Regions from separate parts of the Homo sapiens genome. Here region 1 is linked to region 2. The links come from fine-mapping of genetic effects on gene expression. Tissue or cell type: whole blood. Region 2 holds a variant in brackets; the other region holds the start of a gene. All regions are shown on one strand. Distances are from middle to middle.

What was found. PIP is the estimated chance that this variant, and not a neighbour inherited with it, causes the effect.
Region 1: it holds the start of FAM32A, and the variant in region 2 is fine-mapped to the expression of FAM32A in whole blood (TOPMed, PIP above 0.99).

What each region holds. Positions count from the first base shown.
Region 1 is chr19:16,182,189-16,190,365 of GRCh38, reverse strand. It overlaps FAM32A (family with sequence similarity 32 member A), which reads right to left and starts at 4,956. Exons shown (of 4, transcript NM_014077.4): 1 at 4,850-4,956; 2 at 4,601-4,742. The coding sequence starts at 4,923. RefSeq lists enhancers at 5,362-5,411, 5,314-5,949, 7,173-7,672.
Region 2 is chr19:16,203,280-16,211,456 of GRCh38, reverse strand. It overlaps AP1M1 (adaptor related protein complex 1 subunit mu 1), which reads right to left. Exons shown (of 12, transcript NM_032493.4): 2 at 7,842-7,998; 3 at 5,049-5,116; 4 at 3,308-3,438; 5 at 2,280-2,427. Among named protein-coding and RNA genes, the nearest start is that of AP1M1, 9.5 kb to the right of the region's middle. RefSeq lists a silencer at 6,880-7,029. The variant C/T (reference allele first, on the strand shown) is at 3,987.

The DNA of each region.
Region 1 (8,177 bases), 21 kb after region 2:
CAGGCTGGTCCAACAGGGAACCCAGGTCACTTGCCAGCTTCGTGAGTGGCAGGAAATGAACCAGCAATGCCTGAGCGCGTACCCATGAGCAGACTCTGCTGGGAGCTGTCGGCATGCTTCCTGCATCCTGAGGAGGCTGTTAGCACTCCCAGTTTGGAGGAAAACAAAGTCCCAGAGCGGGTTTCAGGAATGATGAGAAAGAGAGAGGTAAAGGGTCTGACATAGAGCAGGTGCTCAAGTGACACTTCCCATCCTGATGTTAGGGCTACAAGACCAGGATCACCATCCCCAGGGTTATTCTGAAATATGCCTCCTGCACCATGACCTGCTCTGATCCTCACTTCAAACACTCAATGACACCTGGAAAGGTCAGTATCTGGTAGCAGCTGGGAGTGTGGGCTGGGCGCGGTGGCTCATGCCTGTAATCCCAGCACTTTGGGAGGCTAAGGCAGGAGGATAGCTTGAGCCCAGGAGTTCAAGACTAGCCTGGGCAACATAAGGAGACCCCAACTCTACAAGAAAATCAGCTGATTTTGGTGGTGCACACCTGTGGTCCCAGCTACTCAAGAGGCTGGGGTGAGAGGACTGCTTGACCCAGGAGGTTGAGGCTGCAGTGAGCTATGATCACACCAATGCACTCCAGCCTGGGTGACAGAGAGAGAGACCCTGTCAAAAAAAAAAAAAAAAAAAAAAAAAAGAGTTGGAGTGTGGGATATAAAGCCAGACAGATCTGAGGCCACACCTGGCTCCACACTTCCTGGCTGGGTGACTGTGGCCCACTCTTTGGTGGCCCCTATAACTGTGCTGCCTATGATTCATCCCTTGTGCAGTCCCCATGCCACACTGACTCTGACCTGGCCGTGGACTCAGTTAACTCGAAGGAACACAGTACCAGTTCTGGGTCCATGCATAAGACCTGGCAGCATTAGCTTTGTGCCCTTGGAAGCCAGTTGCTGTGCAGGAAGTCTGATGGCCCTGCTGGAAAGAAAGGACCTGGAAGATGAGATGACATGAAGGAAGAGGCCACGAAAGAAGCACTGAGAGGTGGGGCATGGCGGCTCATGTCTGTAATCTCAGCACTTTGGGAGGCCAAGGTGGGAGGATCACTTGAGGCCAGGAGTTTGAGACCAGCCTGGCCAACATGGTGAAACCCCGTCTCTACTAAAAATACAAAAATTAGCCAGGTGTGGTGGCATGCGCCTGTAGTCCCGGCTACTTGGGAGGCTGAGGCAGGAGAATAGCTTGAACCCGGGAGGTGGAGGTTACAGTGAGCTGAGATCTTGCCATTGCACTCCAGCCTGGGCAACAGAACGAGACTGTCTCAAAAAAAAAAAAAAAAAAAAAAAGAAGCACTGAGGCACCAGCTATATGGCGACAAAGCCATCTTAGATGCTGCAGCCCAGCTGCACCTTCAGAGACTCCAGGCCCAGCTGCCATCTGACCACACCAGACTCCAAGTGAGGTCAGACCCTGCTAAGCCCAGTCAACCCAGAGCATCATGAGATATTATTGGTAGGGGCCACCTGGCTGCTCCTCTCTGTCCCCCCCTTCTCCTTCATTCCCTCACCTCCTGTGTCCAGTCAGCCCTCACCTGGCTGATTCTCCCTCTAAGGCGAGTGCCCTGCCCATCTCTGTCCCTCTTCCTGCTGCTGTGAGCCCAGCCAAAGCCTGTGTCTCCCTGTGAGAAGCCACACTGACTTGTCCAGCTGCCACACAATGCCAGGCACCTGGCTGGGCTCTGCCCACAGGCGTGACACCCAGCTACTATTTTAGTTTTTGAAGAGACAGGGTATCGCTATGTTGCCCAGGCTAGTCCTGAACTCCTGGGCTCAACTGATCTTCCCACATCGGCCTCCCAAAATGTTGGGATTACAGGCATGAGCCACTGTGCCTGGCTGACTCCACTTGGATTTCTACTGGGGCACTGCATTTACCTTCTTTAAAACTATAGCTTTGGTTCCCCCTCCCTCAACTCCCACTCCAGAAAACCTGCTTTACCTGCAATCCTTCCCACCCCAGTAAACAGCACCTTCATTCATCAAACTGCCCAGCCCAAAGTCTTGGTCATCCTTGACTCTTCTTTCTTTCCCAGCTTACATCCAACCCAACAGCTAACCCTGAATTCATCCTTGAAAACCTATTCCAAACCTGTTACCTTCCACTGGCTCCATCACGACTGCTCTACTCTGAGCTCCCATTATTAGTCTCTTAATAGCTGCCTAAGTCTCGCATAAGTCTCATTCTGGCTTCCAGCAATAAAATCTCAGCCCTGCCTCTGACTACAACCTCAGGGTTAGAAGGGAAAGAAATGCATTTACTTGGCCAGGCATGGTGGTTCACGCCTGTAATCCCAGCACTTTGGGAGGCTGAGGCGGGTGAATCACTTGAGGTCAGGAGAGCGAGACCAGCCTGGCCAACATGGTGAAACCCCGTCTCTACTAAAAATACAAAAATTAGCTGGGCATGGTGGTGGGCGCCTGTAGTCCCAGCTACTCAGGAGGCTAAGGCAGGAGAATCGCTTGAACCCAGGAGGCAGAGGTTGCAGTGAGCTGAGATCATACCAATGCACTCCAGCCTGGACAACAGAGCGAGGCTTTTTCAAAAAATTAAAAAAAGGCCGGGCGTGGTGGCTCACGCCTGTAATCCCAGCAATTTGGGAGGCTGAAGCAGGCGGATCACCTGAGGTCAGGGGTTCAAGAACAGCCTGGCTAACGTGGTGGAACTCCATCTCTACTAAAAATACAAAAAAATTAGATGGGCGTCGTGGCAGGCGCCTGTAATCCCAGCTACTCAGGAGGCTGAGGCAGGAGAATCGCTTGAACCCCGGAGGCGGAGGTTGCAGTGAGCCGAGATCGAGCCACTGCATTCCAGCCTCGGTGACAGAGCCAGACTGAGTCTCACTGAGACGGAGTCTCACTCTGTTGCCAGCCTGGAGTGCAGTGACGTGATCTCGGCTCGCTGCAACCTCTGCCTCCCGGGTACTGGTTCAAGCAATCCTCCTGCCTCAGCCTCCCAAGTAGCTGGGATTACAGGTGTGTGCCACCATGCCCGGCTAATTTTTGTATTTTTAGTAGAGACAGGGTTTCACCATGTTGGCCAGGCTGGTCTTGAACTCCTGACTTCGTGATCCGCCCGCCTGACTTGTTAAATCCTTACCACAACCCTGTGAGGCAGACTTTAGTGCTACTTTAAGTAATAGGTAGCCGGCTTGCCCAGGGTCACACCACTAATTTGTGGTAGAGGCAGAGTCAAACTCAGGTCTGTCATGCCAGAGGTAGTGCATCCATGTGTTTTCTGTATGCCTGAATTAGATCTGGGAGTAAGGAGTTAATTGTCCCCAAGGTCCATTTTCCCCAGTGTCACCGTACAGAATCACCTAGACCAGGGTTAGGGTTTCTCAGCCTCAGTGCTACTGACATTTGGAGCCGGATCACTCTTTGCTGCGGCAGGCTGTCCTGTGTATCGCAGGGTGTGTGGTGTCATCCCTGGCCTCTAGCCACTAGTTGCCAGTAGTCCCCACCCCAACCCAGTTGAGAACCAAAAATGTTTCCAGACATTGCCACATGTGCTTCGGGGTGGGAGTTTAGGGGGGTGGAGACTACCCCCAGGTGAGAATCACTGACCTACACTGATTATTCCCTCTCCCCAGCATAATGGACCCAGTTTCTGTCTTACTGTGAACTCTTCTGTTCTCCACTGCACACATTTATGGTGTTAAGAAAAAATAATTTATCGGAGCCTTATAATACAATACAAACAAAGTCGTCATGGGCATGGCCATTCAATATCAACAGCTGAGACTGGGTGCGGTGGCTCACGCCTGTAATCCCAGCACTTTGGGAAGCTGAGGCGGGCGGATCACTTGAGATCAGAAGTTCGAGATCAGCCTGGCCAACATGGTGAAACCGCATCTCTACGAAAAATACCAAAATTAGCCAGGTGTGGTGGCGGGCGCCTGCAATCCCAGCTACTCGGGAGGCTGAGGCAGGAGAATTGCTTGAACCCCGGAGGCAGAGGCTGCAGTGCTCTGACCCCGCCAAAAATAACTAATTTTTTAAAAAATACAGCATGTTTGAATCTGCCAAACAAAGTTGTCTTGGAAACAAACTTTGTGGTGACTTCGAGCGGCGAGCATGGCCATTTAATATCAAGAGCTGGCATCCACTGAACATGTATGCACTGCTTTTTACTTTCATGACTTCCTCTCAAGTTCCCAACCCTCTTAGAATAAGTTACTACCCTGACTCGTACAGAAGAGGAAACTTGAGGCACGGAAATAAGAAAGTCACTGGCCTAGTGTCGCAGGGCAAATAAGCCACAGCACTGGAATCCAAACCCGGGTCTCCAGCTCTGGCCTCCTTTCAACGCCAGTTCTAGCTCTCCCCTCTGCTGCCCACTCGGGCCAGCGGGGTCTTCTCATCCTTGGAGCTCCCCCGGCAGAGGGCGACTCTTCTCTCACTCACGTACAGCATCCTCTCCCCGTAATTAAGGTCTCCTCTGACCGCTCCCCTGCCCTCGGAGCGTCCCAGCCCTGACCCCAATTTCCAGTCTCCCGGCGCCGGGTGTTCCCGCCTCCCCGCCGCCTTCTGCTTCTGCTCACCCGCTTCTCCTGCATTTTCTCGAAGGCCGCCTGGGCCGGGGTCCGCTTGTCCAGGCCGCGCCGCTTCTCCTCCTCGTTCTTTTTGCTCGTTCCCATTGCTTCCAGGAGTTTCGCTTTGTCTTTGTCCTTCTTTTTCTTCTTCCTGGAAAAAGACATGAGGAGGCGGCGGGTCGGAGGATCAGGGCCAGGGGTCCCGAGAAAAGGTCTAAGGGGGATGAAGACGGAATCCCGCGGGCCCTCGGGCCTCACCGCTTGGTCACTCCCAGCTCTGCGACGCCTTTCAGCTTCAGGGGTCCCTTTTGGACCTGCTCGTAGGCCTCCATGACACTCTCCAGTGCTTCGGTAGCTGGAGTGCCACACTTCCTGTTTGCAAACACTATTTCCGCCCGAATGGCCGCCTCGCTTCTCTTTGATTGGCTGAGCTACAAGGTGAGCATGCGCTCTTGGTTCTGGACCCGGGCCACACTTCCGGGTAGTGGGCGGGACAGAGAGCCAAGCGAATGAGTGCCCTTCGATTCCTATCTGCTGCCACACTTCCGAATTTGGCGCCCACTTCCGGTCTCCCATTCTTCACACAGGGTGCTGGAAACCCAACCCCTTTTTGAGCGTTTTGCGCACTTTTGGGTGACCTGTTCTCTCTCCTTGATTTTTTTTTCTTTTTTAGAGACACGATCTTGGTCTGTCACCTAGGCTGGAGTGGAGTGGCGCGATCGTGGCTCACTGCAGCCTTGAACCCTTGGGCTCAAGAGATCCTCCCGCCTCAGCCTCCCCAGTAGCAGACTGCAGACGGGCGCCACTGAGCGCGGCTAATATTTTCATTTAAATTTTTTTGTCGAGATGGGGTCTCGCTGTGTTGTCCAGGCTGGTCTCGAACTCGTGGGTTCAAGTGATCCTCCTGCTTCGGCCTTCCAAAGCGCAGGGATCACAGGCCTGAGCCACGCCCCACCACCCCCGTTCTCTTTTATTGCCATATTTTGAGCGTTCACTGGATAGCTGAACCTAATTTTGTAAACCTAATCAGTATTCATTAATTTTTCAGCTTTAGGTAAATGACAATATCATGTGACAAGGTTGGTGGTATGTTAAAACAATTAAAAATCTATTTTATGCCGGGCGCGGTGGCTCACGCCTGTAATCCCAGCACTTTGGGAAAACGAGGTGGGCGGATCACGAGGTCAGGAGATGGAGACCATTCTGGCTAACACGGTGAAACCCCGTCTCTACTAAAAATACAAAAAATTACCTGGGCGTGGTGGCGGGCGCCTGTAGTCTCAGCTACTCGGGAGGCTGAGGCAGGAGAATCGCTTGAACCCGGGAGGCGGAGGTTGCAGTGAGCTGAAATCACACCACTGCACTCCAGCCTGGGCGACAGAGAGAGACTCCATCTCAAAAAAAAAGTACATATATATTTAAATCAGCACTTTGGGAGACCAAGGTAGGCGGTTCACGTGAGGTCAGGTGTTGGAAACCAGCGTGGCCAACATGGCGAAACCCTGTATCTACTAAAACAAAACAAAACAAAACACAAAAAGCAAAAATTAGCTGGGCATAGTAGCCTGCGCTTGTAGTCTCAGCTACTTGGTAGGCTGAGGCAGGAGAAGCGCTTGAACCCGGGAGTCGGAGGTTGCAGTGAGCCAAAATCGCACCACTGCACTCCAGCCTGGTCAACAGACAAAGACTCCGTCTCAAAAAAAAAAAAAAAAAAAAAAAATCAATAGAGATAGGGTATTGCTGTGTTGTCCAGGTTGGTCTCAAACTCCTGTCCTCAAGCAGTCCTCCTGAAGCATTAGAATTACAGGCGTGAGCCACCACCCCTGGCCCTTTCTTTCTTTCTTTTCATCCTTTCAGTACTGTGCGGTTTTCTTACATACGATGTGTACATGCATATATCTTTTTTTTTTTTTTTGAGACAGAGTCTCGCTCTGTTGCCCAGGCTGGAATGCAGTGGCACGATTTTGGCTCACTGCAACTTCCACCTCCCAGGTTCAAGAGATTCTCCTGCTTCAGCCTCCTGAGTAGCTGGGATTACAGGCGCCCACCACCATGCCCCGCTAATTTTTGTATTTTTAGTAGAGATAGGGTTTTGCCATGTTGTCCAGGCTGGTTTCGAACTCCTGAACTCAGGTGATCCGCCTGCCTCAGCCTCCCAAAGTGCTGGGATTACAGGCGTGAGCCACCGTGCCCGGCCCTTGAATATATCTTTTTAATGTCAGCAGAGGACTATCGGAATTTTTGGTTTCTTCTCTATTTCCCTCTGTATCAAAAACCTAGTAAAAAAAAAAACTATTATGGGAAAAATTTAAAAAGGCTGTGCCTACCAAGTATCTGTGAAGATGTGTTGAAACTGGAACTCAAACGTGCTGCTGTTGTGAATGTAAAATGGCATAAACAGTTTAGAAATCAGTCTGACAGTTCTTTAAAAGATTAAGCATTCACTTATACTATGACAAAAGAATTAGATTCCTACGTTTTAACCCAAGTGAAATGAAAGTATAGACCCATATAAAATTGTGTAAATGAATGTTCACTGCAGATTTATTTGTAATAGCCAACAAATTAGAAACAGCCCTAATACTGCCCTAGATAAATGAATGAACACAATCCGTGCCCACAAATCTTGGCTGACTTTTGCAACCAATGGAATTACTAGGTCCAAGGTTATGCACGTTTGCACGTTTTATTTCTCATAGATTTTGTCCAAATTGTGCCAGGGTGGCTTTTTTTTTTTAATTGCTGGCGGGGGGTGGGGTAGTGGGGAGAAGGCAAAGGAGGTGGAGAAGAGAGAAGCAAACGTCCCCAAATCTACCGGACACAAGAAAAAGGAGGGCACAGGGGCTGCCTTTCTCAGTCTTACCTGCAGGGGGCAGCAAGTCACTGCCTAATTATCCGTCCACACCTGGAAAAGACTGTGCAGAGGGGCTTCTGGTACCAGGGGATGGGGGCTGCCAGCACTTTTGTGTCAAAAGCAAGGCGATCTTTTTGCCGGGCGCGGTGGCTCACACCTGTAATCCCAGCACTTTGGGAGGCCGAGGCGGGCGGCTCACGAGGTCAGGAGATGGAGACCATCTTGGCCAACATGGTGAAACCCCGTCTCTACTAAAAATAAAAAAAATTAGCCGGGCGTGGTGGCGCGAGCCTGTAATCCCAGCTGCTCAGGAGGCTTGAGGCGGAGAATCACTTGAACCCGGGAGGCGGAGGTTGCAGTGAGCGGAGATCGTGCCACTGCACTCCGCCCTGGCGACAGAGCAAGACTCCGTCTCAAAAAAAAAAAAAAAAAAAAAAAAGAAAAGAAAAAAATTAGCCGGATGTGGCGGGGCACACCTGCGGTCTCAGCTCCTCGGGAGGCTAAGGCAGGAGGATCACTTGAGCCTGGGTGTAGGTGTTCGAGGGTGCAGTGATTTAGGATCTTGATTGATGCACTCTAGCTTGGGCACTAGAGCAAGACCCTATCTCAAAAAAAAAAAAAAAAAAAAAAAGGAAAAGAAAATGATTATGTTGAGTCTTGAATACAAATTAAAAAAAAACTACAAAAAAAGAAAAAGAAATAGTAACGTGCCAATGTTAAATTCTTAGTAGT
Region 2 (8,177 bases):
CCTGAAAACTGGCACAAGACAAAGATGCCCTCTCTCACCACTCCTATTCAATATAGTATTGGGGGCTGGGCATGGTGGCCGACGCCTGTAATCCCAACACTTAGGGAGGCCGAGGAAGGCAGATCACCTGAGGTCAGGAGTTCGATACCACCCTGACCAACATAGTGAAACCCTGTCTCGACTAAAAATACAAAAATTAGCCGGGCATGGTGGCATGCGTCTGTAATCCCAGCTACTTGGGAGGCTGAGGCTGGAGAAGCACTTGAAGCCCGGAGGTGGAGGTTGCACTGAGCCAAGCATGCCACTTGTACTACAGCCTGGGCTACAAAGTGAGACTCTGTCGAAAAAAAAAAAACACTGCTAAGAGAATAAAAAGATAAGCTACAGACTGGGGGAAAATACTTGCAAATCACCTATCTGACAGAGGACTTCTATCTGGAACACACAAAGAACTATCAAGGCTCAACTATATGAAAATAACCCAATTTAAAAATGCTAAAAAGATGCACAGAGACATTTCTCCAAAGAGGATATACAGATGACAAAGAAACATGTAAAGCAATGCTCAACATTATTAGCCATTAAGAAAATGGAATAGGCCAGGCGTGGTAGCTCACACCTGTAATCCCAGCACTTTGGGAGGCAGAGGCGGGTGGATCATCTGAGGTCAGGAGTTCGAGACCAGCCTGGCCAACATGGTGAAACCCCGTCTCTAGTAAAAATACAAAAATGAGCCAGGCCTGGTGGTGGGTGCCTGTAATCCCAGCTACTCGGGAGGCTGAGGCAGGAGAATCGCTTAAGCCTGGGAGGCAGAGGTTGCAGTGAATGGAGATAGTGCCATTGCACTCCAGCCTGGGCGACAAGAGCGAGACTGTGTCTCAAAAACAAAAACAAAAACAAAACACAAAACTGTGCTGACATACTACTACATACCTATTAGGATGACAAAAATAAAACTACTGACAAAGGATGTGGGGTCATCACAACCCTCATCTGTTGCTGGCGAGAATGCAAAACAGCAATGGTTTGGCAGTTTCTTATAAAGGTAAACATACACTTACCGTGTGACCCAGCCATCCCACTCCTGGGTATTTACCCTAGAGAGATGAAAACTTATGTCCACACATAAACCTGGACACGACATGTTTCTAGCAACTCTATTGACAATTGCCAAAGATTGGAAAACCACCCAAATGTCCTTCTGTGGTTCAGAACAGAAAATAAATATAAATAAATATAAAAGGGAACAGACTTTTGATATGCAAAACAATTGGATTTGGATGAATCGCAAAGAATTAGAATGAGTTAAAGCAGCCAGACTCGAGAGCTCATGACTGTATGACGCCATTCATACGACAATCTCAGAAAGACAGCTGCGGTGACATATGATGCCACTCGTGTGACAATCACAACACGATGAAGACTCCAGTGATGGAGAACAGTTCAATGGTGGCCAGGAAATGGGGAAGAGGGGAGCATGGAGCTACAAAGGGGCAACATGAGGAGGTTTTGAGGTTCTGTGTCCTGGGTGTGGTGATGGGTACACAAATCTGTACAAGCGCTAAAATTCATTTTCAAAACGTCAACTTTCCTCATAATTAAAAAACCAAAAGAAAAAAATATACAAAACAGTAACACTGAACGCAAAATCAAAACCCAAACAACAACCACCACCAAAAAAACAAGCTGCAGGAGAACCACATCTTATGATCTCAGGTTTATAGAAAAATCAATATACTTGTTTCTGTCTGTCTACAGAATGAGGCCCGAGAGGGTGACGGTGAATAAATCCTAATCTTTCTGATTATAGGAGCCCTTTAGTTTCTTTTTTTTTTTTCTGTGCATGGTGACTGATAAGAGCCCTTCACTTTCTAACCTCATACCCTGCTTCTAATTTTTAAAAATAATGTGCATGTATGGATTCTCAGTCAGCATAAATGCTAATAAAGAAAACAAGCTTTAGCCGAGCGTGGTGGCGGGTGCCTATAATCCCGGCTACACGGGAGGCTGAGGCAGGAGAATCGCCTGAACCTGGGAGGCGGAGGTTGCAGTGAGCCGAGATCGTGTCACCACACTCTAGCCTGGGCGACAGAATGAGATTCCGTCTCAAAAAAAAAAGATAAGACAAACTCACATTTCAATGAGTGGCCCAAACTGAATCCTGCTATCTGTTACCACACAGAACGGCTCTCGGGGCTTTGCCAGTTTTAAAATGCTGTGTTTATTTCTATCGTGGAAGAGATAAAACCCTACAGAAGAAGGAAAGAAAAGAGGCCTACCAAGAGGTTGACAGACTCGATGACGTCCAAGAACACCTCATTCTTCCGATACTTGATGCCTTCGGACCGCCAGGACACCGCGTTGGTGACGGTGGCTGGTGGCCGCGGGGCCCCTGTTTCCAGCTTGTGGCCTTCCTGAGTGATGTACCTGTGGGGCCACACGCTCAGAGTGAAGGAGGTGGTACCCGCACCAACGCCACAGCTTCTGGCCTTGACATTTCGGCAGGGTTGGGTGGGGGGTACAGGGCAGGTTCTGACCGACTTGAAAATAGCCCTTGGATTTCAGCAGCTCCAGAAAAGGCAGCCTCTGGTTCACCTGGGGCTGCTTCATACAGAAAAATCTTCACAATTTCCAAAAGCCAATACACTCAAGTTATAGAGGCTGAAGTGCTCATTTTGGGGGACCAAGAAGACCATGTTGGGAAGGAAAACAAGAAGTGGGTGTGAGCTGCTTCCCGTCCCTGCTGAGCACGTGGATGGAACTGACGCCTCGGAGTGTAACCTGGTGACCCCATCCTGCTGAAGGAGCAGGAGGTGCAGCGGTTAGGAACACAGGCTTCTCTGGGAGTCTGCTTGCTTGTCCCCTGTAAAATGGGGAGACGGTATACGGGGAGGCTGTGAATCGAGTGAATGTGAAGTGCTGGGGCCCGGCCCCCAGGAAGCACTTAATTCACATTGCTTCTTATCTGAAGGGCAGGATTCCAAAGAGGGGAGATTTCGATCACAGTCTCATTTTATGACAGTAAAAACAAGGGAGGTGACTCCTTAGTAGCAAGGTACTGAAGGCATCTGTGTGGATGGAGAGTAAAGATGAGGAGCAGGAAAAGCACGGTTATGTGGGGGCGTAGAGGAGGAAACGAATTAAAACCACTAAGAGCAACTTAGTAAAAACCCGAATACTGCTGGAGGTGGGAGGCAGGTGGGGGACAACATGAACACAAATTTGCCCCTTCTGTTTCCACACCTGATGACGTCGATGTCATGACACCGCCCAGGCCTGGCCCCAGGCCCCACCCCTGCCCACTCACTCCTGCAGGATCTTGCTGTCGGTGGTCTGGGGGTAGCCGAAGTCCATGAGCTCGTCCAGCAGCTCGTAGATGATAACAAAGTTGTCCCGGATGCTCTCCTCCTCCAGCTCCTTGAAGTACTCGGAAAACACCTGTGGCGGTTGGGGAGGGAGGGAGGAATGGGAGGCAGATCATTGAGCGGACGGATGAGGAATGAATGAACGCTTGCACACATTCATTTGCCCGCTAAGTCCTACCAACAGCCTACTTCCCAGGCTCGGTGGTGTGCTACAGGGCCCTGGACCCAGGTTATGGGGCAGGACAGCAGTGGCTGGCTGTGGGGTGGGGCCAGGCTGGAGCCACTGCAGATGTCCCGAGGCCTTCAGAAGCTCTGCGTTCCCATTCTCTTCCCTGCCCAGACACCCGCAGACAGGCAGCCCCTCCTGAGCGACTGTAACTGTCATCCCTTTCTGAGTCTGGAGTGACTCAGGCAAGGACCTGATGAGCTGCCATCTTCCCCATTTCAGTGGAAAGCTTGATGCATCTTCCCCATTTCAATGGAAAGCTCAGAAGGTTAAGGAAGGGACGCCAAAGAAGAGGGGCTGTTAGAAGCACTTTTGCAGGCACAAATGCTGAAGGAAGGAGCGTCACTAAAACAGAAAGGCACAGCCCAACCCTTGGGTGAGGACCTTCCCCTTCC[C/T]GCATCCCCCATTCTCTGATCTGCTGACCCCTGCGCGCTTCAGGACTGTGATCACCCGGCCTCTGCTTGGAAACCACAGGCAGCACAGCCAGGCCCAGCCCTGCCTGTGACAGCATCACCGGTCCAGTGAAGGCAGCCCTTGGCCTGCACGTGGGGCCTTCCCAGGTGACCCTCGGCTCCTTCCCCAAGCCCTCACCGCCCAGGCTTGCCCCTGTTCCCCAACATTCTGCACAGGCAGCATCAGTGAGGGATGAAAGCTTTCCCAGGCCCAGCACAGGCCTCCTGGGTCCTGTTCCCCACTTTCGTGAGCCCCACAGCCCACCTCGGCCAGGCCCATCCTCTCCGGGAAGCCAGCAGCAGCCTCCTCACTGGCCTCAAGTCCTCCTTCTGCTCAGCAGCCAGAGAGGCTGCTTTAGATCAAACCACGTCTTGTCAGTCTCCTGCTTAAAGCCCTCCACTACCTTTCATCAGAAGTGGAATGAAATCCACACTCCTGTATAATCCGCCCTCTTCCCAGCTGACCTCAGCCTCATACTCTGCCACACGCACGCTGGCCTCCCTAGCTGCACCACACATACACCTGTCCTGGCGCCTTCACCCTGGCTGCTATCTGTGTCTCACTGGCAGCCTGGGCCTGGCGTGTCAGCTCTCTCCAAGGTGGGCGTCAGGCATCTGTGCCTTGAGAGCCCCCTGGGAGATTCTGAGGTGGGCTCAGCTCTGCAGCTCTGCTGGTTATTCCAGCCCCATCCAGCTGGTCACCCCACATCCTTCCAAAGCTCGCTGACCCCTGCTTGTCCCTTCCAGGGTCAGGGCACCCCTGCTCTGAGCCCTACCTTTTCCTGTTCACTTTCCTTTCTTCCCCACGGTAGGGGAGCAACGTGAGCTATAGAATTCCACAGGCGTGGGGAGTTGGGACTCCCCTTTCCCACTTCCTGGGCTTCCAGCCCCAGTGCTCCCTGGGGATGCCACAGCTCTCTGTAGGGTGGCCAGGTATGGGGAGGTCCACAAGCAGAGCCAAGACAACCTCCACCCAAGCCCACGGCCCCTCCGAGCGAGACTCACCTGCACCACCTTATAGAGGAAAGAAAAGACCAGCGACACGCACGCGTTCTTCTTGGATGTGGCAACCACTGCATGGCGGCCACAGTTAAGGAGCATTCAGAGGCTGGGGCTGCTGCCTGGAAGATCCTGGTTCATGGAGGGACCCCCTAACCCTCACAACCCTCAGAGCCTTCCCTATCCCCACTCCCAGCCGTTTACTTGGCCCATGGTGGGCTACAAAGCTCCTGGTCCAAGCTAGACCTGGGACACAGGAGTCACCAGCCAGATGCGCTCCCAGGCCCCAGGGAGCACTCACTGAGATGGAGAATCACAGGGATGGCAGGTGGCACAGGGCACCTGTCCCGGCGGCTGGGTGAAGGGCTGCCTTGAGCAGGGAGGGAGTGAGGCTCATTCCAGGAGCAGAAAGCAGGACACACTGGCCCTGCTCCTCCAAAGCTGACCTCATCATGACCCTGCTGAGGTCCAGGGTCCCCCGGCCAGACTCTGTGGCAAGCAGCCAGGGCCAATTCTGGCTTCAGCCCTTCCTGGCTTTGGAAACACAAGCCTTGGCCCATGAAATAAACCTTTCTAGAGAAACCTTGATATTTCTCTCCTGTGTAATGGAGGCCTGTGAATGAACTCACCAAGGCAATGTAGGTGAGATGTCTGGCACAGATGTTCCCTTCTGCCACAGGAGCCAGCCCCTGCCTCCCAGGGTCAGTGTGTGCTGGGCGCTTCCTATTCCTTTTTCCCTAATGGGTCCCCGGGCCGCCAGAGAAGGCTGGTTCTTCCTCTGTAGGCCCATGCACTGCACCCTGGACATCCCTGTTCATGGCACATCTGTGCTGCCTGGCTCGTCTGCCCAGGAGTGAGCTCTAGGAGGGAGGGTGGGGGCTGTATCCTCTCCCTTCCCGCCTCACCCCAGCACAGCACAGGGGCCCAGGAAAGGGACGCTGGCCCAGTCAAACGAGTGCTGGCCTCCCTCCTGCTGCCTGGCAATGTGCCCTCCCCAGATGCTTTATAAGCAGGGGCAGTGGGGGCCTCTCACCTTCTCATGGGTGCCTCTCAGCCACGGCCTTGCTGAGCACTGTCCCGGCTGGGGGTGAAACGATGTCCACTAAGCCAGAGGGGTGAGCCCTCCCTGTCTCTTCCCTAGATGCCCAGGTGTGAAATGTGGGGGCCCAACCAGAAACTGATCTGATGGCTCCTGCTGAGCTCAGACCACAGCCACCTCTCCCTCTCCCAATACCTGGGCGGCTTCAGAGGACTGTCAGTTCCCTGGGTTAAAAGCCACCTAGGCCGGGCACGGTGGCTCACGACTGTAATCCCAGCATTTTGGGAGGCTGAGGCGGGCGGATCACGAGGTCAGGAGATCGAGACCATCCTGGCTAACATGGTGAAACCCTGTCTCTACTAAAAAAATACAAAAAAATTAGCTGGGCGTGGTGGCGGGCGCCTGTAGTCCCAGCTACTCGGGAGGCTGAGGCAGGAGAATAGCGCGAACCCGGGAGGCGGAGCTTGCAGTGAGCCCAGATGGCGCCACTGCACTCCAGCCTGGGCGACAGAGCGAGACTCTGTCTCAAAAAAAAAAAAAAAGCCACCTAAGATCATCTTCAGAGCTATTCTCAGGGCCTTCCAGAGCCAGGTGAAATCTACACAGAGGCACACCACAGGGAGCCCTGGGCCAGCACGGCCCACATGGGAATGTGCACACCGGCCACCAGGAACAAATCTTCCTACAATGCAGATTCTGACGGGGCAGGGCTGGGTGGAGCCTGGGATTCTGCATTTCCAAAGGGCTCCCAGCGGATATTCTGGCCCGTTGGCCACACTGTACTGGCAAGGCCCCAAGTGTCTCCAAGAACACAGGAAAGGGCACAGAGCCCATGCCTGCTGGGAGCAATATGCACAAGTCAGTTCAACTGACCCGAATGGTCCTGCAGTGAGGGGTCGTTGTTCCCACTGAACTGTGGGAAGGTGAGGGATCCCCCATGGCTGCTGGAGCTGGGGCTCAAACGGGCTGTGAGTGGCAAAGCAGGCCCTTCCGCAGTAGTGTGGGTACTGAGATGGGCTTGCGGGTCTGCCCAAAGCTGTGGGGTGGCCAGTTAGACCTCCTGGATAGAAACTGGCTTGGCCAAGTCTCCCCATGGGCCCAAGGACAGGAAGGGTGGGGGGCTCTGAGATCTGGGCGGGGCTGTACCCCACCACCCCTCCGTGGTCCAGGCCACTTCCCCTCCCACCTGCACGATGGCCCCAGCCTACTCCCCACCTACCCATGTCCTCTCCTGTCCCCACAGTCTTGCCCCACTCAGCAGCCAGAAACCTCCAGAAGACACACATCTAAAAGCCTCCAGAGACTTCCTGTCACATTTCAGATGATGTTCTTTGAGACCCCAGACCCCGCTGACCACTCCAGCCTCGCTGCCCTACACGCCCCCTCTCCAGCCACCCCGAGTGCAGCTGTTGGAATGAGGCTCTTCCCTGCAGAGCCTTCACCCACGCCTAGTGCCTGCCCACCCCTCCAGCTGGCAGAAGCCAGGCCTCCCTGCAGGCTTCCTCCAGGGTGTCATTTCCCTTCCTGGGCCCCTGGGCTGAAGAGGTTCAAGTCACACCTGCTCCTCTCCCCACACCCATCACACATGTCATCGTGCATTGTCTGCCTGTCTCCGCAGGCAGCAGGGAGCTCCAGGAGGGCATGGCTGTGTCCAATGCTTGCGCTGTGCACAAACCAGCCCTGCTTGCAGGCGTGTGGATATGCACACACACCAACACCCACACAGGAGTCCCCTGGGAGCACCCCCAGCAAAGGGATACGATACAGGTTGTTGTGTTTGATCCACATGAAACGGACCCCCCCGTGGGCCAGGATGGGCGACAGCATCCCCTCCTCCTCCTTCTCCATCAGGATGGGCATGAAGTGCTCCACCTCTGACATGTCCACGTCGCCACGGTAGTTCCGGCAGATGAGCACCTGGGGTGGGGAAGGAAGAGAAAAGATGCTTGCATTTTCAGTTCTACAATCTGGGGGCTTGGGGCAGGGGGTGAGATGCACCACCCTGCTTCGCTCTGGGGACTCCGGTCATGGCCACTATCCGCAAAAGAGCAGGACTTGAGGCCGTTCTGATCTCCATCCCCCAGGGAATTCCTGGA